Linked DNA regions of Homo sapiens. The protein of the gene in region 3 purifies or fractionates together with the protein of the main gene of each other region. This does not show direct contact. Each region holds a gene or a part of one and is shown on either strand. Other genes may lie near its edges. The genes, in order: PPT1, NFIL3, NIPBL, MED13L, SETX, KSR2 and STK38.

Region 1 (3,500 bases), on a different chromosome or scaffold from region 3:
AAGGGCTCCAGCACCAAAGAACATAGCAGCTTCAGGAACTGGGAGCTGAAAAAACACCAACCTCCCAAGATAGACTCCCTGCCAGTTACCTGTGTGTACAGGGAGGTCTCCTGTAAGGGAATGGTTTCCTTGGCTTGGCCACTTCTGTAAAATCCAAACCACTGCAGAAGAAGCAAAGGAAAGAAGCTCAGATATGACACACAGCACATACTGCCAAAATAATTTGAGACTGGTTAGAAGCTAAAACTGCCAACAAAGTGAACATCATAAAGCTGTAGGAAGAAGGAAAAATGGATAGGGTGCGTCTGAGTCATCTCTTCTTAAGGGTGGAGCCCGAGGGATGAGTTAATCTTTCTGAGAGGCCGCTTTCCACTTCCCCAGAATTTCTGCTTCCTAAAATTATTAAGCAATAAATGTGAAAAATTCCTGTGCTGAGCTCTAGACATTCAAGGATGAATACATAATCTGTTTCCAAAAAGCTCCCAGTCTTGCAAGGCACGGAAACAATTCACTGTTGAGTACAGAGGTCAGCAAACGTTTTTGTAAAGGCCAGATACAAAATATTTTAGGCTTTAAGGGCCATATGGTTGTAACTACTCATTGCTGCCACTGTAACAAATGCAGCCACAGACAGTATGTAAAAAGTAACTAAAACTGTTCCAATAAGGACACTGAAATTTAAATTTTACATAATCTTTATATGTCCAAATACTTGATATGTCTAAATAAATTTTACATAATCTTTATATGTCCAATTCTTTCCCCCAACCATTAAAAAATGTTAAAAACATTCTTTTATGTTAGTGTTTGGTGTTACTCGTGGGTAGCACCAAAACGGGTAGCAGGATGGACTGGGCCTGTGGGCCACAATCGGCCAATCCCTGGTGGTGTGACATAACGTGATGAGTGTTTTAACAGAGGCTGATGATTCTAAAAAAGCGATCACATTCTGCTTGGAATGGGGATGGCATCCTTGCCTTGACAGACGAATAGAAATTGTCAGGTGGAGAAGCCAAGGAAGGGCATTCTAGAGACAGAAATATATGAACCAAGGCATACGAGAGAAAAAGCACAAGTAGTACAATATGGCTTGATCAAGAGTGTATGAAGCGTGCAGACAAGGCAGATTAGGCTGGAAAATGGGGTGAAGCCAGATCAAGGCAGACCTTGGAGGCCAAGCTTAGGAATTTATATATTTTGGGCTAGTGATTCTGAACATTTTTTGGGTCTCTGATCTCTGGAAAATGGATTAAAATTATAGATCCTTCCCCAGAGAATGTAATTACATAATTTTGCATAGAATTTTGGGGTTGGGGGATTGATTACAATCTTCAGTGTCCCATTTATGGACCTCAGGTGAAGAACTGTTTTATACAAAAGTTGGTGGAAGGGACTGAAGGTTTTTTCCCCAGCAGGCAGCTGTATTTTTTCATTTCATTTCAATTTCATTTTATGTTCTTTTTGAGACAGAGTCTCGCTCTGTCACCCAGGCTGGGGTGCAGTGGCACGATCTTGGCTCACTGCAAGCTCTGCCTCCTGGGTTCAAGTAATTCTCCTGCCTCAGCTTCCCAAGCAGCTGGGATTACAGATGGCTGTCACCATACCCGGCTAATTTCTTTTTGTATTTTGAGTAGCGATGGGGTTTCACCAAGTTGGCCAGGCTGGTCTTGAACTCCTGACCTCAGGTGATCCACCCGCCTTGGCCTCCCAGAGTGCTGGGATTACAGGCATGAGCCACCGTGCCCGGCCAGCAGCCCTATTTTAATGCCATTTACTCTCCTGGCATGTGGCCTAAGTAGTGTCTCACCTCCGAATCTACAGGGTCCACAATGGAATCATTGAGGAATTTCACCATCACAAACTTCTTCAGGGCCATCAGGTTTTTCTTGTAGGACTCATTGATACCCTGAAAGAAAGGCCAGCAACACCTAAGGTCATTACCATCAGACACCAGCAGAGGGAGTAAAGCCTTCCTGTTTTCTGGTCTCCCTGACCCTGTGCCACTGTGTTTCTTCCCCATGGGTATGGGCTGTTTTCCAGCTTCCTGACCAGGATATACCTGTACAGCTTTTTTTTTTCTTTTTTTCTAAAAAACAAAATATTTTATTTTAGATTCAGGGGGGTACATGTGTAGTTTTGTTATAAGGGTATATTGTGTGATGCTGAGGTTTGGGGTTCTGTTGATCCTTTCACCCAGATAGTGAACACAGTGCCCAACAGGAAGTTTTTCAGCCCTAGCCTCTCCCTCCCAGCTTTTGGAGTCTCCAGTGTCTATTGTTCCCATCTTTATATTCACGTGTACCCAATGTTTAGCTCCCACTTATAAGTGAGAACATGTGATATTTGGTCTTCTGTTTCTGTGTTCATTTGCTTAGGATAACGGCCTCCAGCTGCATCCATGTTGCTGCAAAGAACAGGATTTCATTCTTTTTTATGACTGTGTAATATTCCATGGTGTATATGTACCACATTTTCTCTATCCAGTCTACCGCTGATGGGCACCTAGGTTGATTTCATGTCTTTGCTATGGTGAACAGTGCTGCAATAAACACGAGTGCAAGTGTCTTTTTGGCAGGACAATTTGTTTTCCTTTGGGTATATACCCAGTCACGGGATTGCTTACACAGCCTTTTCTTTTCCTTTTTTTTTTTTTTTTTTTTTTGAGATGGAGTCTCGCTCTGTCACCGAGGCCAGAGTGCAGTGGCACCATCTCAGCTCACTGTAACCTCTGCCTCCCAGGTTCAAGCGATTCTCCTGCCTCAGCCTCCAGAGTAGCTGGGATTACAGGTGATCGCCACCACATCCAGCTAATTTTGTATTTTTAGTAGAGACAGGGTTTCACTATGCTGGCCAGGCTGGTCTCGAACTCCTGACCTCAAGTGATCTGCCCACCTCGGCCTCCCAAAGTGCTGGGATTACAGGCGTGAGCCACCACGCCCGGCCTTCTATAGGCTTTTCTTACCATCCTATCTGACTGACATGCCACTGAGCATGGCATACAGGTACAACTATGAGTTTACACCACACTCCATAGGTGTCCATCACATAGGTGAGAGGCTTCTAGTCAGAGAAAGCCAAGACAAAATAAGAAACTGCAAATTCTGGGTCGTTCTGCTATATACTATTCTGTGTTGTTTTTTGTTTGGTTTGTTTTTCCCTTCAAACTGTTTCAAAACAAAAAACCAAAAGACTCTCCAGATGAGTCAAATATAAACTGAGCCATCTAGTTTACCAGAACCTACCAAACCATGTTTGTGTCTGGGACATACTCAGTGCCTACTGTATCTCTCTTTTAGGTAAATCTCTAGAGAAAAATCCACCCCCAGACTGATCCATCAGGAAAGCTTCCCTCATTAAGACAGCAGCTGTGAATTTCCACCTCGCCCAGTCAGCAACCTGCCGAGCTTATCCTGTGTGTTTCAACACTAGGAGAGGGAAAGAACTTAAGGGAAGAAAGGCAAATGAATTTCAACCTCCCTAAAGGGAACTGAATCTCAAAG
Region 2 (3,500 bases), on a different chromosome or scaffold from region 3:
TGCAGACTATTATTCTGGTTATTTTCTCCACCTGAGAATCTTTCTCTTCCATGTGTTATCTTATTTGTTCCTTCTTAAAAAAAAAAATCAGATTCCTTTATTTTGCCTCACTTACTAGATTTACAGTAATGCTTTTGAAATGCCCCGCCATTCTGTCTGCCTTAGTTACTCTTCCTAAACTTCTAGGACCTTTTCAAGGTTGGGGCCCAATTGGGAAGGAGCCTTCACAATAGGTCCTATTTCTATTTAACTGAAATAGCCCCATTTGTCTTAAAATTTCCTTAACTCATGTCTTCTAGGTGTCTAAGTACTATATGACTACTTTATCATCTCTACAACTTTGTTGGTACATTAACCTACAGAAAACTTCATTTGCTTTTTTGTTTTTGAGACAGAGTTTCACTCTTGTTGCCCAGGCTGGAGTGCAATGGTACGATCTTGGCTCACCGCAACCTCTGCCTACAGGGTCCAAGCAATTCTCCTGCCTCAGCCTCCCAAGTAGCTGGGATTACAGGCATGTGCCACTAAGCCCAGCTACTTTTGTATTTTTAGTAGAGATGGGGTTTCTCCATGTTAGTAGAGATGGGGTTTAGTAGAGATGGGGAAACTCCATGGGGTTTCTCCATGGGGAGTTCAGGCTGGTCTTGAACTCCCGACCTCAGGTGATCTGCCTACCTTGGCCTCCCAAAGTGCTGGGATTACAGGCGTGAGCCACCTCGCCAGGCCACCTCATTTGTTTTTAATCATCTTCTTCCTATTTGAATTTCATGGCATGTCACTATAAATCTGTGATTCTGCTCTCATCTGTATGTATTACATTCATGGTCTCTACAACTCAATGGCAAATCACCACACTATCTTAGGATATTTTCTGTAATATTATCTATCAAATAATCTTGCAGTGTTGAAAAGAGTTTATCAGCATTATGGGATGATACGGAGACAGGCACAATCATATACACTGTGTGTGTTTCCACGTGTTTGTCTTTTGTGCCCAACTACACTGCGAATTACTTCAGGGCGGAAATTAAAATATACTTGTCTTCTAGCAAAAACCTGAAGATATTAGGTGCTCAACATTTCATTGACAGTCACCCATATACCTTATATAAGAGAGTTTTGTAAACAGAAAACTTTTTTGATGCTTTCTTTTTAATGTTATGTGAATTGTAAAGAAGATATTTTACTTATTAACAGAGAGATTCTCTTATTCATTAATTTGTTTATTCAACACATATGGAGCACCTACTGTGTACTGGGCACAAGGGGAGACTAGGGGCACATAAAGAGGGAGAGAAAAACCAAACTCCCGAGACCAGGCGCTCAGTCGTGGGTGGGTGGGAGACAAACAGGTGAGCAGAGGGGAACCAGGTGTGAGTGCAGAGTTGCACAAACATGGGCCTGGGGTGCAGGCTTTCTTCTTGTCATGGAGATAATAACAAAAACAATCATAATTGGTGCCATTTATTGAACACTTACCACAGAATGGGCACTGGGAGCCTGACCTGCTTTCTTTCATTCACTTTTGGTGACAATTTTCAGATAAGAAAACTAAGGCTCAGAGAAGTCAAGTGACTTGCCCAGTGTCACATAGCTAAATGGCAGAGCGTACATTCAGGCCCAGTTCCTTTACTCTCTCCTACACTTTCACAGGTGGTTCTGCATCTTTGCAATGCAGTCTCATTTACACACAGTTCTCTTTTGTGTCACTTTCATTTCTGAGTAATACATACCCTTTTACTAAGTTACTTTGGGCGCAGTAAGGCACTATGCTAACTTAACTACTTCTTCTTTTTTTTTTTTTTTCTTTTTGAGAAGGAGTTTTGCTCTTGTTGCCCAGGCTGGAGTGCAATGGCGCGATCTTGGCTCACCACAACTTCCACCTCCTGGGTTCAAGCGATTCTCCTGCCTCAGCCTCCCAAGTAGCTGGGATTACAGGCATGCGCCACCATGCCCAACTAATTTTGTATTTTTAGTAGAGACGGGGTTTCTCCATGTTGGTCAGGCTGGTCTTGAACTCCCGATCTCAGGTGATCCGCCTGCCACAGCCTCCCAAAGTGCTGGGATTACAGGCGTGAGCCGTCACGCCTGGCTCCTTAACTTCTCTTAGATGCTGTCTTAACTTCTTTAGCCAGCAAAGATACTATCTAGAACTTTTCTCCATCCTCCTTAGATGTTTCAGATCTGGCACTATTTATGAATTGAGAAAACATTTTATTAATTTTCATATCTTTACTAAAATTTTAACCTCCTGGCTATTCTAATTATGTTAAATAGAGAAAAAGAAATATGATAGCTGTGGACATTGTCACCTATGATCTTCTTCTTTTTTTTTTTTTTTTAACAAATCCAAGAGTGTAATCTGTTTTCAACATGAGGCGGGGGACAGTGTCTCTCTGACCCTCTCATTTTGCAGATTAATCAGCTAGAAGACAGGCTGACCTTCCCAAGACCACACAGCAGTTGGGCACAGATGGGCTCTGAGCTCTCCTTATGCCCCTCAACAATGAACTTAAAGCAAATGCAAAAGTAGTTTACGATGCCTTCAAAAAGCCTCAGGATTTATGCTAACCTAACAAATTTATTTCAAGCCTCAATATTTTCCCTTATGATTAATTTAACAATTACTTCATCTATGCATCATCTTTTCAAATCAACATCTAATGTTGTGGTATATTAGTCATTGCTTAAGTTTCTTTTTTGGTGAATAATTGACACTACATGCCAATTCTATGATGTTAGTGTATTCAGCACGATTAACTTCATTACACACATTAGATGATATGACTCTCCTTGAAAACACAAATAAAAAAGAGAAATTTAAGAGCAGGTATTATTACCTACCAGTTGACATATTTTTCCATACATACTCCGAAGGTGCCATCACTAATTAATGCTTTTGTATAGTCCATCACACTACTTCTCTAAGCAAGAATTATATAGCAAGAATTATATTTCATAAGCCCAGATTTTTAAAGTTTAAGTCAGATTACCCTATTGTTTTTAATTAAGTACAAGATTTGATTTAGAAAATTCTATAAAAGAATATAACCTCATAACAATAATTCTAGACCAAATTTATCCTTGAGGAGTTATCTCATTAGTTATGTTTATGATAGACCTTTATCTTCCCTGGTCTCTCCCAGAACTAATGTTTAACAATCCAAGCTCCACAAAAGAAAAGAATAAACATGCTTTGTTTCAATCATCTGAAATCTTACTAATAGTCTAAACATTAAAATCTACTCTGAGAACATTTTGTTATTAATTATCTATAAAGGGTAAGTTTTATTGCAAATTGCAATATATATTTTGTTTTTAAAATTCTGTCAATAGAAGATGAAATACTATTTGATATGCCCAATGATTTGGAAACATTATAGAATTATCTTATTTTCCCTCTACTCTCTGAATGTATTGTTTTCTCCCTGTTATATAATACAGATAACAGTAAAGGAAAAAAAAATGTCTTCAAGGTAAACCTAAGTTATGTTAAACTG
Region 3 (3,500 bases):
GTATATACATCTGCATTAAAAGTATACTATCAGAAACGCATTTTGGTGCTAAAAACATATTCATAGGCAATATTATTGCATGTGAAAAACCCAGGTGAAATAATATACCAATTACTAACTAAAAGCTATATTCACTTCTGGATGTTCTTTAAGGAGTTTTAAAAGACTCTTTGTTAGAACAGAGTTTAGAAAGCAAGGCTAGGGTAAGCTGAGAGGGGAGGGAGAGAAAGATGGTCCAGATCAAAGGAACAAGAGGGTACCACTTTCCATCTTTCACCTGACTCTTCTAAAATTGTATAGCCATACTCTTTAGTTTATAAATATAAGCTACTCCCAAACTTTCACTAAAAAATTTTAAAGAAAATTTTTACCTAAAAGAAAACAATTGTGGTGTTAACCCCCACATTCTACAACCTCTTTTATATTAACAAGTAACTCTGAAAAGATGCATTCAAGTTAAATAAAAAAGCCTACTTATTAATTAAGGCTGATGTCTTAACTGACTTTTGGTAAGTCTAATTGCCATAATTTAAAATTTAAAAGCTTCACTCAAAGAACACAAATATTAGCGACTCAGAAGGCAATCTTTTTTCATTATTGTAAGACAAAAGGAAATAAATTAACAGTGAAAAAATGAATGTTGACGAAGACCAAGCAAGAATAACAACAGATTAGCCACAAGTCATTCTTTGAATAAAGAGTTCTTTATAATATGTTTTCAAAGAGCTTTCTTGGTAGACAAGCTACAACAGCATGTTATGAAAAACAATAACCACACACTTTTTGTATCTCCTAATACACTGCAGTGCTATACAACTTTGTGATGATGCAAATGTTCTGTTTTGTCCAATATGGTAGCCAACAGCCACATGTGACTACTAATGAAATGAACTTCCAATTTTAGTTAACTTAAATTTAAATAGCCAAAAAAGGCAATGGTTACCCTCTTGGCCAATGCAATTCCAGATTTCATATACTTGGTTATATATAAGTATAAATCTAAATTCTTAATAATTCTCTTTCACAGAAGGAAAACTTAAATAAACTCTCAGTTCTATTGCCTTCACTACACCTCAGTATATTTAGACTGTATGGACACGGTGGCTCACGCCTGTAATCCCAGCACTTTGGGAGGCTGAGAGGAGAGGATCACTTGAGGCCAGGAGTTCGAAACCAGCCTGGTCAACAAAGCAAGACCCCATCTCTATTTAAAAATAAAAAAAGTTATTTTAAATACTTGTGTACAAAGGGATACAGAAGTATATCTTCTGCACAAATGGCCATTATCTTTTGGCACTTAAGACATTCTTCTCCCTTTGGAAATAATTTTACTCAAGTAACCAGAGAATTCAGAAACCATGCAAAAATAACACCAGTCCCCCGCCTCCCACAAACTTACAATTTAACCAAATTTAAAAAGTAAGTACCATTCCCTATTACCTTTGCATAAACAAGGACAAAAAGATATGTTTTAAAAATATAAAACATATTTAACTAACCATCTCCCCAACAAAATGAAAAATAACCTTTTATATAACTTTCTAAACTATACAAATTATTCATCAATAATTGGCTCAGACACAGGTCTGTAAGAATGTAGTATTGTAAGACATTTTTAAATAGAGAGTTTTTAAAGACAGCTATTTTAATACAACATTCACTTAAGCATATTTCAGAAATATAAGAAATAACTAAACAGCAAAATAACTTATCTCTGTGTAACCAAATAGCAGTAACATTCATAACTACCTTGAGTAGTGGGTGGGAAGAAAAAAACTGTGGGGAAAAAAAAATTCACTGGAAACTTTTTATCTATACTCCTGAAAAAAATTTCCTGTTGTTTGACATAAATGTTATATTTTCATGTAGTAGCTTTCTAATTTTTGTAAATTTCCTTTTTAAAACTTAGTAATCTTAACACTTAAAATCGATTATATTATAAATGACATCAGTAGAAGTATTCTTACCTTTATTTGACTTTGATGGTTTATTCTTGATAGGTTTAAGGGAACTTCTTGATTTGTCCTCTCTATCTTTAATAAGTTTCTGAACATCATCCAAAGACAGTTTTTGTAGCACAACTACAGGCTTAGCTCCTTTATTTAGATCTTCAACTAATCCTATTTTTTCTACTTTGTCTTTCGGCTCTCCTTTCATTTCCATTTTCTTTGTCTCCTGAGTAACATTGCCATCTTTATCCCTCTTGATTTTCGGAATGACAAAATTTTTCAACGCACCAGACCTGCCCCCCAACAAATAACTTGGAAATTCTGCCTTATTGTCAGGGTGTGCTTTATTAGTGTCTACTTTACTCTTGTTACCCTCTGTCCTTTTGTCATCTTTACTAGTTGGTGATTTAAAACCAAGTTTATCAGATCTTGATTTATTAGAATCTCCTTGTTTAACACGAGGACTGTCAGGTCTTGATTTTTGTTCCCCAGAAGATGGTCTTTCCCTTGAGTCCCCTGATTCATGCCTGTGTTTTCGTTCTAGTTTATCAGTTTTTGAACTATCAGATTTAATGCCATGTTCATTTCTACTAGAGGATCTCAATGTTTCTGGTCTTCGAACCCTAGACTGATCCCCTCGATGTCGCTCTGATTCACCCCTGTCATCTGATTTTTGTTTATTATCATGGTCACGTCTTAGTGACTCAGAAACAGATCGCCCATCAGGTCTCTGCTTTAAGGCTTCAGCTCGTTCTGATTTTAACCGAGGTGAGTCAGATTTAGTATCTTGTTTATGTTTAGACACTTCAGGTTTTTTCTCTGTAGATGGCTTTCCAGAATCCCTCCTATTGTCATGCCTGTGTTTTGGTGTTTCAGGTCGCCCTTCATTTTTTTGCTTTGGAGTTTCAGGGCGGCTCTCACCTTTTTGCTTTGGAGTTTCAGGCCTTCCATCACCCTTCTGTTTTGGGGTTTCAGGATGCCCATCACTCTTTTGTTTTGGAGTCTCAGGCCGGCTTTCACCCTTTTGCTTTGGGGTTTCAGGCCTTGATTTTGTTGTTTCTGATCTGCCATTATTTTGTTTGTTGTCATTTGGTTTTGTGTCAGACAGTCTATTTTCATTTTGTTTAGGCTCAACTATGGTGCTCTCGTTTTGTTTGCATTCAGTTGTTCTGCTCTCATTCTGTTTAAGTTCTTCTGTTTGGGTCTCAACTTTAGTTTCTAACTTATTTTCACTTGATTTTGTCTCCACCAATCGGTTTTCATTTGGTTTAGATTCTGCTAATCTACTTTCACTTTGTTTCATTTCACTCTTTGAAAGCTCAGGATCAGACTTTTTTTTAGGTGTCTCAGGATGGTTTTCTGGTGTAGATTTAAGACTTCCAACAATATCTTCCTGAAGAACAGAAACAGGTGCATCATTACATTGTTTGATTTCTTCAGGCTTTTTTATGGAGTCTGAATCCTGAGTTATAGAAGCCTGAGAGTCCACTCTTCCTGCCTGATGAAGATCAATGCTAACCATTAATGCTGGCCTTGACCCATTTCCCGTAG
Region 4 (3,500 bases), on a different chromosome or scaffold from region 3:
AGAACAAAATTATCCATTTACAAGTTATTTCTCTGCTTTCACATTCCCACCACACAACTTTTTTTTTAATATAATGTTTTAAACTTTAGATTATTTCAAGAAAAATACTTTTACAAAATCATATCAATTATTACATTTTTCCTTTTTTGTTAATAACCAGGACATGGAAGTCTCTTGGAAGAACTTTTAAAATTTGCATGATTCTCTCCACAGATGACAAGAGCTCAAAGGCCTGGTCACAGTGGCTCCCGGGAGGCCAGTACACACCCACTGTCCTCAGACAGAAACACACAACACAAGGGTTAGAAACAGGGTTTCAAAGACAACCCTCTGGGCCAGGAATGAGGAGTCATAAAATACTTCAATTAGCCATTAATGCTTTAAAAAGGCATTTTTTTAAAAAGTCCCACCACAAAGGCTCAACTTCAAGTACTAATTTAATGGTTAAGTTGTAATATTTCTTTGAAATAATATTCCTATGGTCCAGAAAAAATTCACCATATTTATAACTGATTTCATGAGCAAACACTTTCAATTGTTGTATGTACATAAGTCCCTTTTGATCTAATGAGAGGAGAGACCTGGCTTCCAATAAGAATTCACTAGAAAATATATTTCCGTTGTGACTATATAAAACTAATTAAGGTACTTGCCTCCATGGCTCTGAGTTGAGCTTGACTGCCTTCTGTATAAAAATGTTATCCTTCATGAAATGCTGGCCACTTAACATGGCAGAACTTTTAAAATCCAGTTTGTTGTTAACAAAACCTACTGCTGGGTGGTTTTGAATATATTACTTTTAGGCATGATCTCCCCAATGTGTTTTTACTCCTTTTCCGGCTTCTAGGACAGAGGTATGTAGTCAAAGAATCCTATGGTGGATCTGAATTGGGTTTCAGCTACTGTACCTGGTCCTTGTGAATTAAAAAAATAAAGTCACAAAAACCATATGACAAAACAAATTAAAATAAATAAACAAAATGAAGCTGTCTCCAGACCTTCTGCATTGACACACAGGTTTGAAGTCAACCAAAGCACTCATGCTAATCTGGATGGGAACACTAGGGAGACAGAAACCCCAGTATGAAACCATGTACTTGAGCTGGTTCTTATTTTTAAAAAGTCCCAGATTATGGAGTTCAGGTAACCCACAGGCCATACACCAGTAACTAAGAGGATTTCATCCAAAGGGCTAGACTGCCCTCAATTGTATACAGAGGCTGAAAACACAGACTCTTGTGCAAAAGGACACTGTCTCTTCTGTTTCCCGCTGAAAAGCCATCAACCACCACCACTTCCTGGGGACCAGTGGTTGGGGCTACACACACCACCGCACTGGCTGAAAGTCACCACTTATGGAAGTTTCCAGGTCCATGAGAGAAGTGTCAAGGAGTCACTCTGGTAATGAACACTGCAGAATTGACATGTGCCTGCTGAGAAGGAATCACAGTGCAGGACTGTGGAGAGTGGTCTGAAGAAAAGGATGTGGGTTATTTGCAGAGTGTAGCAGGTTCCTTGGACTGAGGTTGCAGGGAGAAGGAACTGAGCCAGAGAGAACAAGTGCTTTTCCAATTAAAGTATATTCATGATGGCATTGTACAACTGAGTGAGCACCACAAAGTGGACGGGAAGGCAGGAAGTACGGTCCTGGGTGGCCGGATTGCACGTGAGCCAGGACAGAGCGTTGTACTGCTCCAAAACAAACCTGCCAAAGAGAACACACAGAGCAGGGGCGTGAGCCTCAAGAGGGAAGGCTGGTTCTCAGATTCTAATACATTCCAGATCTTAGCAGGAAGGAGGTCTCAAAGGCATTCCTTAACTTGCCCCAGGCTCTTTCCCTCATCCTTTGTCTCATGTTCCTCCTTCCTTCTAGATATGGACTATCCAGTACAGTAGCCAGCAGCCACACATGGCCATTGAGCTCCGCCAGTGAGGCCAGTAGGAACTTGCGTGGACTGCAGGTAAAGTAGGCACTGGAGCCCAAACACTTAGGGGCCAGGTGCAGTGGCTCACGCCTGGAATCCCAGCAACTTTGGGAGGCCGAGGTGGGGGTGGATCACCTGAGGTCAGGAGTTCAAGACCAGGTGGCCAACATGGTGAAACCCCATCTCTATTAAAAATACAAAAATTAGTCAGGCGTGGTGGTGCATGCCTGTAATCCCAGCTACTTGGGAGGCTGAGGCAGGAGAATTGCTTGAACCTGTGGGCGGAGGTTGCAGTGAGATCATGCCACTGCACTCCAGCCTGGGTGACAGAGCAGGACTCCGTCTCCAAAAAAAAAAGAAAAAGAAAACGAAAAAAAGAAAAGTATGTAAAATATTTCATGAATATTTTTATATTGTTACATGTTGAAATAACATTTTGAGTATATTGAGTTAAATAAAATATATTACTAAAATTAACCAGTTTCTTTTTACTATTTTAATGTGGCTAACAGAAAAATTTTAATTAGATTTGAGGTTCACATTGTATTTCTATTGGACAGTGTTCCTCTAGGGCAGCAGTCTCCAACCTTTTTTGGCACCAGGGACCAGTTTCGTGGAAGACAATTTTTCCACGTGGTGGGGGATGGTTTCAGGATGAAACTGTTCCACCTTAAATCATTAGGAGTCTCATAAAGAGTACACAACCTAGATCCCTTGCATGTGCGGTTCACAATAGGGTTTGTGCCCCTATGAGAATCTAATGTCATTGCCTGACAGGAGGCGGAGCACAGGCTGTAATGCTCGCTCACTTGCTACTTACCGCATGCTGTGGGGCCTGGTTCCTAACAAGGCATGGACGGGGGTTGGGGACCCCTGCTCTAGGGGGCCTGGAAGCCAAATTTATGTTGATCAGGTTCTTTATTTTTATCCATAACTATAATTATACATTAATCTATAATATATAGTTTCCTATCATTTCCTAACCATTTAAGAGTTAGAAAACATTAGAAAAGGCCTGTATATTTTCTCAAGGTAGATGAAGAATGCCTGTGGCTTGATTAATACACACTTCTGGAATGCACTTCTCAACTATGTCATTTATGTTCTAGTCCATTTTTAAAAAAACACATAATCGGTGGCTCATGCCTGTAATCTCAGCACTCTGGGAGGCTGAGGCAGGCAGATCATGAGGTCAGATCGAGATCATCCTGGCTAACACGGTGAAATCCCGTCTCTACTAAAAATACAAAAAATTAGCCGGGCATTCTGGCGGGTGCCTGTAGTCCCAGCTACTTGGGAGGCTGAGGCAGGAGAATGGCATGAACCCAGGAGGCGGAGTTTGCAGTGAGCTGAGATCACGCCTCTGCACTCCAGCCTGGGTGACAGAGCGAGACTCCATCTCGAATAAACAAACAAAAATACATAATCTATCTCAGGAAGCATAAAAAGTGTTTTCAATGTGAGGTGCTTTAAGAGTTCCAGACACTGTCTTCTAACTATCCACCCCCAAGATCTGACCTCTCTTCATCACCATGAAGTGCCTGCTCTGAACAGGAAGCAAAGGCAACTATAAAT
Region 5 (3,500 bases), on a different chromosome or scaffold from region 3:
CAGCCACTACAGCAGCGGGCTGCTGTATATGGCTCAGGTCCTGGTGAACGACAGGGAAGCCCGGCTCGCCCGTAGGAGGTGTTGCTCCAGGATGCTGGGGGCTCGAGGGTTGTGGATCCCAAAGGAATATTCCTCCTTTGACCTCAATGCCCATCCTCTTCAGCAGTCGTGGGTCCTGAAGTTGGTCATGAACAGGAGGTCTTTCAGGGTCCTTTGAAGTAACAGTAAGAGTAATTTCCTTGGAGTCAGAGGGTGTGTGGTATAGAGAAGCAGCAACAGATGTCTTGGCAAATCCACTGTCTAGCTTGCTGCTGGGCAAACCACCCTGGGGTCTGGACCCCTCTGGGGCTATGGTAGGAGGGTGAGTGAGACTTCTCTGCAGCACAGGCTTGAGTTTCAGAATCTTCACTGCATCATGTCTATAGTTTTTGTCACAGGTCTTAATAATGGCACCACGCTTCTGAGCATCCTGAATCAGCTGATTCCAATGCTGGTTTTCCTTGAAACAATGAGAAGGGAGAAATAATTACACCCCAAAGAGACACTGCTTGGGAAGCATAGAGTTCCAGCTTTCATTTCTGAACAAATAATACATATTATTGTATGAACATATTCTCAAGATTCATTACTCGTCAGACAAGGATGAAAGGAAAAAATAAATTCAAATAAAAAATGATAAAGTCCCATTCCTAAAAATAAGACCTGGTCACAACCTATAATGGAGAACTTCAACTTTTGTTTTTTTTTTTTTTTTTTTTGAGACAGAGACTCACTCTGTTGCCAGGCTGGAGTGCAGTGGCGCGATCTTGGCTCACTGCAACCTCCACCTCCCGGGTTCACGCCATTCTCCTGCCTCAACCTCCCGAGTAGCTGGGACTACAGGCACCCGCCACCACGCCCGGCTAATTTTTTGTATTTTTAGTAGAGACGGGGTTTCATCATGTTAGCCAAGATGGTCTCGATCTCCTGACCTCATGATCCGCCCGCCTCAGCTCCCAAAGTGCTGGGATTACAGGCAGGAGCCACCGTGCCTGGCCGAACTTCAGCCATTTTTATCAGTGCATTCAACTGCAACGCAGGTCTGCACTAGTCACTAGGAGCATCATGTTGCTATTTATATTTCAATAAATTAAAATAAAAAATTCTGTTCCTAAATTGCATCAGCCACATTTCAAGTACACAGCGGTCACACACGACTAATGGCTATTGTACTGAGCAGTGCAGACACAAAACATTTCCGTTATCACAGAAAGGTCCTTTGGACATTGGTGATCTAGAGTACTGCCTACACCTCTTGGCAGGGCTAACGTTCTGAAACAGGAAGGTCTGGTTTCAGAAAGCAAACTTCTGAGTGCATGTGACTATTCTAGAAAAAGGCCCAAGGCTTTCACTGGATTTCTAAAGGCCTCCCAAACCCCGAATGGCTAAAACATCTTCATCCACCGAGATCTCAAGATATCATCTCACTTTCTGCCTGTTTCCTACAGGAGCTTAAGATATTAAATCCCATCGGGAAAGTTGCCAAACACATGCACCTCTCCTCTCTTCCCGAGTTTCTTCAGAGGAGGCTGCTGCTTTACAACCACTAGAATTCGGGTCTCTTTAGAAAGAAGAAAGAAAAGAAGAAAAAGGATAGCTACCCTCTCATGGGGGCTCCTGTACTGTTCATAAAGGTATGTTAGGGAAGCAGTGAGGCTGCACAGTATTTACTTGCTGTGTGACCTTGGTCAAGTCACTTGACCTCTCTGAGCCTGTTTCCTCATCTGTAAAATAGGAGTAATATTTTATTTAATGGATTCTAAAGTGCACGTTGCTTTCACATTTTAGCATTTCTGACCTTGGGGAGCCTCTTGGCCATGTACCTATCCTTGGAAATTACATGATGAGGCAATTATAACCCTTAGACTTTTAGTCAATAAACCATTTAAAAATAATGCCTGAAAACCTTCTACAGACATTTTCTGATAAGACAAGATAACACCAGCATTAAAACTTATGCACTGGGCCAGGTGCAGTGGCTCATGCCTGTAATCCTAACACTTTGGGAGGCTGAGGCGGGCGGATCACCTGAGGTCAGAGGTTCAAGACGAGCCTGGGCAACATGGTGAAACCCCGTCTCTACTAAAAATACAAAAATTAGCCAAGTGTAGTGGTGCACAGCTATAATCCCAGGTACTTGAGATGCTAAGGCATGAGAATCGCCTGAACCCAGGAGGCGGACGTTGCAGTGAGCTGAGATTGTGCCACTGCACTCCAGCCTGGGCAACAAGGTGAGGCTCTGTCTCAAAAAAAAACCCCCAAAAAAACCTTATACACTGGAGATAAAGGGTTCTAAGAAATCCTGGAGACAATGGTGTAACTCTTAGCAAATGCTAAATTGCCAACCTTATTATTGCACTTGGGATGAATGACAACACTGATGACTATGGATTGGGAAGTGATTCATTCGTGCTAAATTCTGAAAGTGAAATATTTTTAGGAATATCTTAACCTATTATTTTACTTGTATTTTCTATGTATGGATAAGAATATGGTAAAAATCTGTCTAAAGTCTTAAGAGTCCTTTCAATAAATATGAAAGTTCTAAGTGAAAATAAGGCACTGTGTCATAGTCTAATAATGGTACATAAAATAGTGGTGTATATTATAATGAATGGTTTCTTGAATTTGATGAACTATGGTAATAAGCTGACTTCACAGTAGTTTTTCAAGGTTTGGAGAAAGTCATGTGACCAGAATAAAATGCTTGGCCCGGTGGCTGGCATACTGAAGACAGGTCTGTGGAGGGAGCGCCAGGCTCTGGGGGCTCAGTTCTCTTTCTCACTCAGATCTCTAGAGATCCTTAGCCTGTGGCTCAAACACATATGTGAAGCAGATGGCCTTGCAATTTTTGCTAAGTTCACTACACCTAAACTTGGTGTTTAATCCATTCCTAAGATCACAGAAACAGTTCTGAGCAGGCACTATTAGCCTTGGTTTCTCAGAGGAAATCAAACGCTTTAATGATTGATCCCATTCCCATAAGGGGAACTAGGCTAAAAACTTAGAAACAAAAGCAAATGAATCCCCAAAACAACAAAGAAAAAGCCCAAGGACAAAAAAAGTTAGGAAGCCCAGCTGACATGTCGGGAAGTTTCAGATTCTCGTCTGTCTCTTTTTGTAGCACTGCCTTCCTAGAGTGAAGACAATGTCGGTGCCATTAGCTGGAGGTCAGTGGTCTGCACAGTTGTGCAAGTGTGACCCAGGGGCTCCCAAACACTGTCTAAACGGAATGTGAAAAAGGGTTACAGAATAACCTTGCAAACCCTACTTCCCATGTCCTCCTTGGGCTGCCCTGCCTCCTGCACCCCACCCTTCACAATCATGATGCGCCTCATCCATCCAGAGTGCACTGCCAAGACACATCAACACCATGAGGTGCCAACTTAAGGGAGGATGAAAAACAGTAGTGCCCACAAAGCCTCCTTTAATCAAGGCATCACTAAAAGATGTATCTCTAG
Region 6 (3,500 bases), on a different chromosome or scaffold from region 3:
ATTGCAGGAAGTGGCTGACTCCACAGAGTCAATCCACTTGCTGGAGGGGGTCCTGGTGAAAGAGTCTGAAAGACCACAAGAACTAAAAGAAGGAGAAAGAAAGGTCAACCACAAAGTGGCATTCGCCATGGTATTAACCAATTATTCATAGCACAGCCTGGGAAAGTGGAATGAACCTGCACGATGACAGCTGACATGCTGAGAACTTGATGCCCTGGGGGAGACTTGGCTGGGACAATGCAGCTGGAGTCCCTCCTCATGCCCAAAACCAAAACAGGCCACCCTCCTCTCTGCATCAAGGCGTGATTCCAGCAGCCAGGGCTATTCAAGTATTTCCTTCTGCAAAGAGTTGTCATCACTCCGCGCACATTTAAGCAGATCGCAAGCAGCTATTGACTCTGTTTTTCGCTGGTACCTCTGGACTGTCAGTTAATAACCTGGAGTTCATCTTGCACAAATTGTAGAATTGGTTTATGTGAAGCAGAGAAATGATCTCGAGCTAGATGTCAGCACCATATCCCCCGGCAAGTTGCTGCTCCTTTGATTTCAGAGATGTACCATGTAAGTCTTTAACAAAGTCCATAAGACCAGTCAGAAAAGATGAAGCAGTTAGGGGACCCAGAAGAAAAACTAAGTAGGCACAAAGGTGAGTTAGGAAACTGGTCAAATCCTAGCAAGCCCCAGGCTTCCATCGCAACCAAAGAAGTTAAGGAGGTGACTTTGTGACATCACTTTTTTCTTCTTTAGACAGAGTCTCCCTCTGTTGCCCAGGCTGGGGTGCAGTGGCACAATCCCACCTCACTGAACCTCCACCTCCTGGGTTCAAGCAATTCTCCTGCCTCAGCCTCCCAAGTAGCTGCGATTACAGTTGTGTGCCACCACGCCTGACTAATGTTTGTATTTTTAATATAGACGGGGTTTCACCAGGTTGGCTAGGCTGGTCTCCAACTCCTGACCTCAGGTGATCCTCCTACCTTGCCCTCCCAAAGTGCTGGGATTACAGGCATGAGCCACTGCGCCTGGCCAAGGTGACTTCACTTCTGCTGCACAAGCAATAAACCACCTGAAAAGAGGGTCTGTTTCCTAAGGATGCTATGCACAAAGATGTTCATTGCAGCATTATTTACAACAATGAAATATGGGAAGCAATGTAAAATCCAGCAATAGGAAAATGGTTAAGAAAATTATTCTACATCAATATGTCATTTTACACCCATTAAAAACAATATCAGACAGGTGCAGTGGCTCATGCCTGTAATCCCAGCACTTTGGGAGGCTGAGGTGGAATGATCACTTGCACCTAGGAGTTTGAGACCCACCTAGGCAACATGGTGAATCCCTGTCTCTACAAAAATAAAAAATTAAAAAAAAAATACAAAAATTAGTTGGGTGTGGTGGCACACACCTGTAATCCCAGCTACTCGGGAGGCTGAGCTGGGAGGATCATTTGAGCCCAGGAGGCTGAGGCTGCAGTGAACCGTGATTGCACCACTGCATTGCAGCCTGGGTGACAGAGTGAGACTCTGTCTCAAAACAAACAAACAAAAAACAAAAACCAACAATGTCTATGGAGAGGCTAAAATAATATTCATAAAATGTGATGTTTGGCATAAAGATAACAAAGCAGGATGGTAGCTGCTTGCATATATTGTGGGTCATAACTATGTAAAATATAAATGGAAAGAACACACATAGAAGTTTTAACAGTGGTGAGATCATGAGTGATTATTTTGCCTTTCCCTTTTTAAAGAATAGCCCACATTTTCCAAAATTAGCTTATATTATTTTTATAATAATATAAACCAGAGGTTAGCAAATTTCTTTCTGCAAAGGGTCATAGAGTAAATATTTTTGGCTTTGCAAGCCATACAGATTATGTTACAACTACTCGATTCTGCTGCTGCATGGAGAAAGCAACCATGCACAATACATTGTAAACAAATAGGCATGGCTGTGTTCCAATAAAACTTTAAATAAAAACAAGCAGGAGGTTGGATCTGTCCCATGGGCTATAGTTTGCTGATTCCATAAACCTCAATGAGACTTTTGAAAGTTATTCCATGTTCAGTGACATGGAATAATTGCCCTTTCATTAAGTACTAGCTATCACCCGGGGAAAGTTTTCTTCCTAATCACAGGGAGGTTATGGGTCCTTAGGAAACGGTCCAGCCCCTGGAAATTGCATTTGACAGGCAGGGTCAGAGACACAAGGCATAGCTGCTCGTGAGGAACAGCATTGCCTCTCTCTCCATCTCTCTGTCTGAGCTGTCACGCCCTTTCTCTTTGCCTAAGTTATTCCCTATGTCTCTCTGACCCCCTTGTACATCTCCCTCTGCCCCCAACTCCATCAGTTCCAGGAAGAGAAGGAAAGAAGATAGGGAACCTGAGTGGATTGTAGGGCCAGGGCTGGGAAGCTTGGGAAAGGGGGAAGATGTCTCTGTCTCACTTACATTGGATTCGAGGTCACCGGATGCAGGATGACCTGGGGCGCCCGGGTCGGCGTCTCCGGCACCGGCACCACATCTGAAAACCAGAGATTGAACACTCAGAAAAAAAATGTGAAGTCCACAACCCCCGCAAAGGCCTGATTCCTGGGCGACATGGCAGCCAATTTTTCACCAGATCTTGGATCTCTGCCCTTGGCCAATCTCCTTTCTCCTTTCCTGGACCACCTGGACTCTACCTGCTCAGCTGGACCAGGGTTCTGGATGACATCCTCAACAAAATTCCTCATTGTTGAATAGGGGGCTGCCAGAACCCTCAAATATCTAGCCTGAAGCATTCATTGGTCATCTCTGAATCTTTCTTTCTCCTGGGTTCCCTTTGGGATGATAAAGCCCCTTGGTTTCACATCCTCTCAGTACCCAGCTCAGGACCCTATGACCATCTCTTTCCTGCCACATGGCTCTAGACCCCTCCTCACCCTCGCCCAGTGTTCTACAGCACTCCACCCTCTCAGGCCTTTCCACGGTGCCTTGGGACCTCCTTGGGTCCCACTGTGCCCACTCTTTCTTCTCCACTTCCATGTTCAGCCATTATCCTGGAGTGTGGTGACTCCACTACCCTCTTTGATCTTAGGCACCCCCACAACATCTGCCTCCATTCATCCCAGAAACTCCTGCAATGCAGCGGGGCTTGTTCAGAAGGGGCTGCTTCCAGCTCACATGAAACTCACCTGGGAAGATGAACTGCTGCTTGTATTTGTAGTAGTGGGATGCTTGCAAAAGAAAGAAAACATCAAAGTGAGTGTCCCCAGGGAGACATCGCTTCAGGGACCAGATTGAGCTCTTACAGCCACCACATGGTCATTCTCTGCCCACCTTCAAGAGTTTCCATACTTCTGCAGACATCCCTGCAGACAAGGGACTGCAAACATGTGTAAAGAAACCAGAACTCTAAACATCCATGCCGACCCTCCCATCTGACATCTCACACTCCCTAAAATCAGACTGCTCCAACTCAAACAGACATTCTGACTACAATACCATTTTTGTGAAATG
Region 7 (3,500 bases), on a different chromosome or scaffold from region 3:
ATTTTCTGGGATAAGTGGAAATCCTGTCTGTGTCATGGAGGGATGGCCATACAGAGTAATCCAGTAGTCATTAAAGACATACAGAATCAGGCCGGGCACAGTGGCTTATGCCTGTAATCCCAGCACTTTGGGAGGTCGAGGTGGTAGTATCTCTTAAACCCAGGAGTTCAAAATAAGCCTGATCAACATAGCAAGACTCTGTCTTTACAAAAGAAAAATAAAAAATCAGCTGGGTGTGGTGGTGCTCTTCTGTAGTCCCACCTACTGGGAAGGCTGAGGCAGGAAGATCACTTGAGCCCAGGAATTCAAGGCTGCAGTGAACCATGATTGTGCCACTGCACCCCAGCCTAGGTAACAGAGTGAGACCCTGTCTCAAAAAAAAAAAAAAAAGAAAAAAGAAAAAAAAAGACATAGAATTTTATTAAGGAGAGTAATCTCGGTCAGATTCAAAGTTCTGGAGTGTAAAAGCTCCGAAGTTCCTTTTTTATTACAGGCTACCCACCTTTCTGTTCTGAGACCCCTCAAGAGACATATAAGAAGGTGATGAACTGGAAAGAAACTTTGACTTTTCCTCCAGAAGTTCCCATCTCTGAGAAAGCCAAGGATCTAATTTTGAGGTATTAGAGAACATCCCTCCACCTTCTTTCTCAGCTTTTTAATATGAATGATTCCATTTTTTTAAAAACTTTTGTTATCTCCTGAATCTGCTTTCTGTTTCCTCCTATTCCTCTCTTTAAACAAATAAAAAGGCTGTGCATGGTGGCTTACGCCTATAATTCCAGCACTTTGGGAGGCTGAGGCAGGGGGATCACTTGAGCCCAGGAGTTTGAGACCAGCCTGGACAACACAGCAAAACCCCACCTCTAAAAAGAAAAAATTGGCTGGGTGTGGTGGAACCTGTGGTCCCAGCCACTTGGGAGGCTGAGATGGGAGGATCCCTTGAGCCCAGGAAGTTGAGGCTGCAGTGAGCCATGATTGTGCTACTGCACTCCAGCCTGGGTGACAGAGTGAGATGCTGTCTCAAAAAAAAAAAAAAAAAAAGAAAGTTTTTCTTTTTCTGAGGAGACTGCTTGAGATGTGCTGAAAGGCCTCTGTCTTTTCCAGGTTCTGCTGTGAATGGGAACATAGAATTGGAGCTCCTGGAGTTGAGGAAATAAAAAGTAACTCTTTTTTTGAAGGCGTTGACTGGGAACATATCAGGTATATCCATATAAACACTTTCAGAATTATTTCAGAAAGTCTCTAGTTTACTTAATAATAATTTGGAAGGACCATCATTGGCAAGCCAAGTAAGGGAAGAGAGCTTCTTAGAGATTTAGGGTCTTTTCCTGATTTTCATTCATGGTGAAGATTGGGCATTAGATTTTTTGTCAGCCGTGTGTCATGGAATATATTGAATCTAGCAGTTATTTACAAAGTGAAGTGAACTTTGTTTTTTGAGGTGGAGGGAGCATCTAGGAAGCGTATTACCCTTTACCTAGAACTCAGCAACCTCTTAGGTCCCGCCAGCGGGACTGTTCCTGCCCACAGGGTGGAAGGTATCACTGGAACATAGAGAAGGGAGAAAGGAGTGGAGGAAAGATTGGAGGGGTGGAAGTGGAGAGGGAAAGGGAGAGTGAAAATTGTTATGGTGGGGGTAGTAGACTACGGCCAATAGCCGTGAGAGCCTAGACCACCTGCTGTAGTCCAGACCTTCTCATTCAGCATTCATTGGTTATTAAATAGAAGGTGAAGTTTTCATTTATTTTATAATTGTGTACTGATTTGCTGCTTGTGATTTTTTACCTTTGCCACTTTTCTAGCCATCCTACTTGGCACCTCCAGTGGAAGAAGGGCAGAGCCCTACACAAGGGGACATTTAGAGGTTCAGTTTCCCTTTTTAGTAGACAGGCCAGGCCATGGGGGGAGTTGCACTAACTTCACGTTTTAGTTATTCTTATCTTTCTTTCTAGCTATGAATGATTGAGTTATTTTTTTAAAATCATAATTTACTTTGGGTACAGTCAGTTGGCTTGGTTGGTCAGTGTTTATAAGTTTTTCAGAGAAAATAAATGCTGCCTGCCAGTGAAGAGTCTTCTCATGTCAGACCAGGGGTCTTTTTTGGAGAAAGACTTGATTGGTATGATCCATTTGATTACTAACTTAGTAATTTTTGGCATGTGTATTCTTGGCAGAGAGAGACCTGCTGCAATATCTATTGAAATCAAAAGCATTGATGATACCTCAAACTTCGATGAGTTTCCAGAATCTGATATTCTTAAGCCAACAGGTAACACCACCAGCATTGTCTCCTGCTGCCTTATAAGCACATTATTTACCCCCAATTTTGGGATGATGTTTACAAATCAGGGTAGTGAACATGGAGAGGAATTTCATTTCTTCAGGTTCTTTGTAAGTACTTTTCTAATTCTAATGCTGGGTAGTGGTGAAACCTTGGTGAATGGAAAATGAGTATCAGCTCCCATGTTTAGACTGCTCAACTGGGTGAGTAAGTCACAAAAATCTGTTCTTTTGTTATTTACTAAGTGTTAGGTAATCTGAAATGACAGGAATGGGAAAATAAAACATTAAAAAATTTGTGAAGAAATATGAGATTTAAAGAACATGAGCAAGAAAATGTGGAAAATTCATAGAGTGAGGCCAGGCGCGGTGGCTCATGCCTGAAACCCCAGCACTTTGGGAGGCCGAGGTGGGCAGATCACAAGGTCAAGAGATCGAGACCATCCTGGCCAACATGGTGAAACTCCATCTCTACTAAAAATACAAAAATCAGCTGGGTATGGTGGCACACGCCTGTAGTCCCAGCTACTGGGGAGGCTGAGGCAGAAGGATTGTTTGAACCCGGGAGGCAAGGTTGCAGTGAGCTGAGATGACGCCACTGCACTCCAGCCTGGCGACAGAGCAAGACTCTGTCTCAAAAAAAAAAAAAAAAAAAATTCATAGAGTGAAAAATAAGCTTTCCCAAATAGAAACTGGTGTGTTCTTCATAGTCCTGTCTTCAGCACCGTGAGCAGTCCATTGGAGGCAAGGCAGTGAATCAACTCTCACATCTATTTCTTTCCCAGTGGCCACAAGTAATCATCCTGAGACTGACTACAAGAACAAAGACTGGGTCTTCATCAATTACACGTACAAGCGCTTTGAGGGCCTGACTGCAAGGGGGGCAATACCTTCCTACATGAAAGCAGCAAAATAGTACTCTTGCCACGGAATCCTATGTGGAGCAGAGTTCTTTGTATAACATCATGCTTTTCCTCTCACACTCTTGAAGAGCTTCCAAGAAGTTGATGGAACCCACCAATATGTCATAGTAAAGTCTCCTGAAATGTGGTAGTAAGAGGATTTTCTTCCATAATGCATCTGAAAAACTGTAAACAAAGACAACCATTTCTACTACGTCGGCCATAAACAGCTATCCTGCTTTGGAAGAGAAGCATCATGAGCCAATTTGATAGGTGTTTTAAAAATAACTTGAGTTTTCCTAAGTTCATCAGAATGAA

What was found.
Region 1: the proteins of NIPBL (region 3) and PPT1 fractionate together in Homo sapiens (co-fractionation; one large-scale study listed by BioGRID). This does not show direct contact.
Region 2: the proteins of NIPBL (region 3) and NFIL3 purify together in Homo sapiens (affinity purification with mass spectrometry, with the first as the bait; one large-scale study listed by BioGRID). This does not show direct contact.
Region 4: the proteins of NIPBL (region 3) and MED13L purify together in Homo sapiens (affinity purification with mass spectrometry, with the first as the bait; one large-scale study listed by BioGRID). This does not show direct contact.
Region 5: the proteins of NIPBL (region 3) and SETX purify together in Homo sapiens (affinity purification with mass spectrometry, with the first as the bait; one large-scale study listed by BioGRID). This does not show direct contact.
Region 6: the proteins of NIPBL (region 3) and KSR2 purify together in Homo sapiens (co-immunoprecipitation; one large-scale study listed by IntAct). This does not show direct contact.
Region 7: the proteins of NIPBL (region 3) and STK38 purify together in Homo sapiens (affinity purification with mass spectrometry, with the first as the bait; one large-scale study listed by BioGRID). This does not show direct contact.

What each region holds. Positions count from the first base shown.
Region 1 is NC_000001.11:40,076,753-40,080,252, forward strand, and holds part of PPT1 (palmitoyl-protein thioesterase 1 isoform 1 precursor), read right to left. Parts: intron 1,907-3,500; coding exon 1,808-1,906; intron 162-1,807; coding exon 90-161; intron 1-89. UniProt on the Homo sapiens protein: Has thioesterase activity against fatty acid thioesters with 14 -18 carbons, including palmitoyl-CoA, S-palmitoyl-N-acetylcysteamine, and palmitoylated proteins. In contrast to PPT2, PPT1 can hydrolyze palmitoylated proteins and palmitoylcysteine.
Region 2 is NC_000009.12:91,413,833-91,417,332, forward strand, and holds part of NFIL3 (nuclear factor interleukin-3-regulated protein), read right to left. Parts: exon of another isoform or gene 1,734-3,500; intron 1-1,733.
Region 3 is NC_000005.10:36,984,769-36,988,268, reverse strand, and holds part of NIPBL (nipped-B-like protein), read right to left. Parts: coding exon 1,968-3,500; intron 1-1,967. UniProt on the Homo sapiens protein: Plays an important role in the loading of the cohesin complex on to DNA. Forms a heterodimeric complex (also known as cohesin loading complex) with MAU2/SCC4 which mediates the loading of the cohesin complex onto chromatin.
Region 4 is NC_000012.12:115,959,694-115,963,193, forward strand, and holds part of MED13L (mediator of RNA polymerase II transcription subunit 13-like), read right to left. Parts: intron 1,706-3,500; coding exon 1,573-1,705; 3' UTR 1-1,572. UniProt on the Homo sapiens protein: Component of the Mediator complex, a coactivator involved in the regulated transcription of nearly all RNA polymerase II-dependent genes.
Region 5 is NC_000009.12:132,264,487-132,267,986, forward strand, and holds part of SETX (probable helicase senataxin), read right to left. Parts: intron 500-3,500; coding exon 1-499. UniProt on the Homo sapiens protein: Probable RNA/DNA helicase involved in diverse aspects of RNA metabolism and genomic integrity.
Region 6 is NC_000012.12:117,528,491-117,531,990, forward strand, and holds part of KSR2 (kinase suppressor of Ras 2), read right to left. Parts: intron 3,218-3,500; coding exon 3,176-3,217; intron 2,524-3,175; coding exon 2,451-2,523; intron 568-2,450; coding exon of another isoform or gene 507-567; exon of another isoform or gene 56-506; intron 1-55. UniProt on the Homo sapiens protein: Location-regulated scaffold connecting MEK to RAF. Has very low protein kinase activity and can phosphorylate MAP2K1 at several Ser and Thr residues with very low efficiency (in vitro).
Region 7 is NC_000006.12:36,495,480-36,498,979, reverse strand, and holds part of STK38 (serine/threonine-protein kinase 38), read left to right. Parts: intron 1-493; coding exon 494-617; intron 618-1,104; coding exon 1,105-1,200; intron 1,201-2,174; coding exon 2,175-2,269; intron 2,270-3,065; coding exon 3,066-3,196; 3' UTR 3,197-3,500. UniProt on the Homo sapiens protein: Serine/threonine-protein kinase that acts as a negative regulator of MAP3K1/2 signaling. Converts MAP3K2 from its phosphorylated form to its non-phosphorylated form and inhibits autophosphorylation of MAP3K2.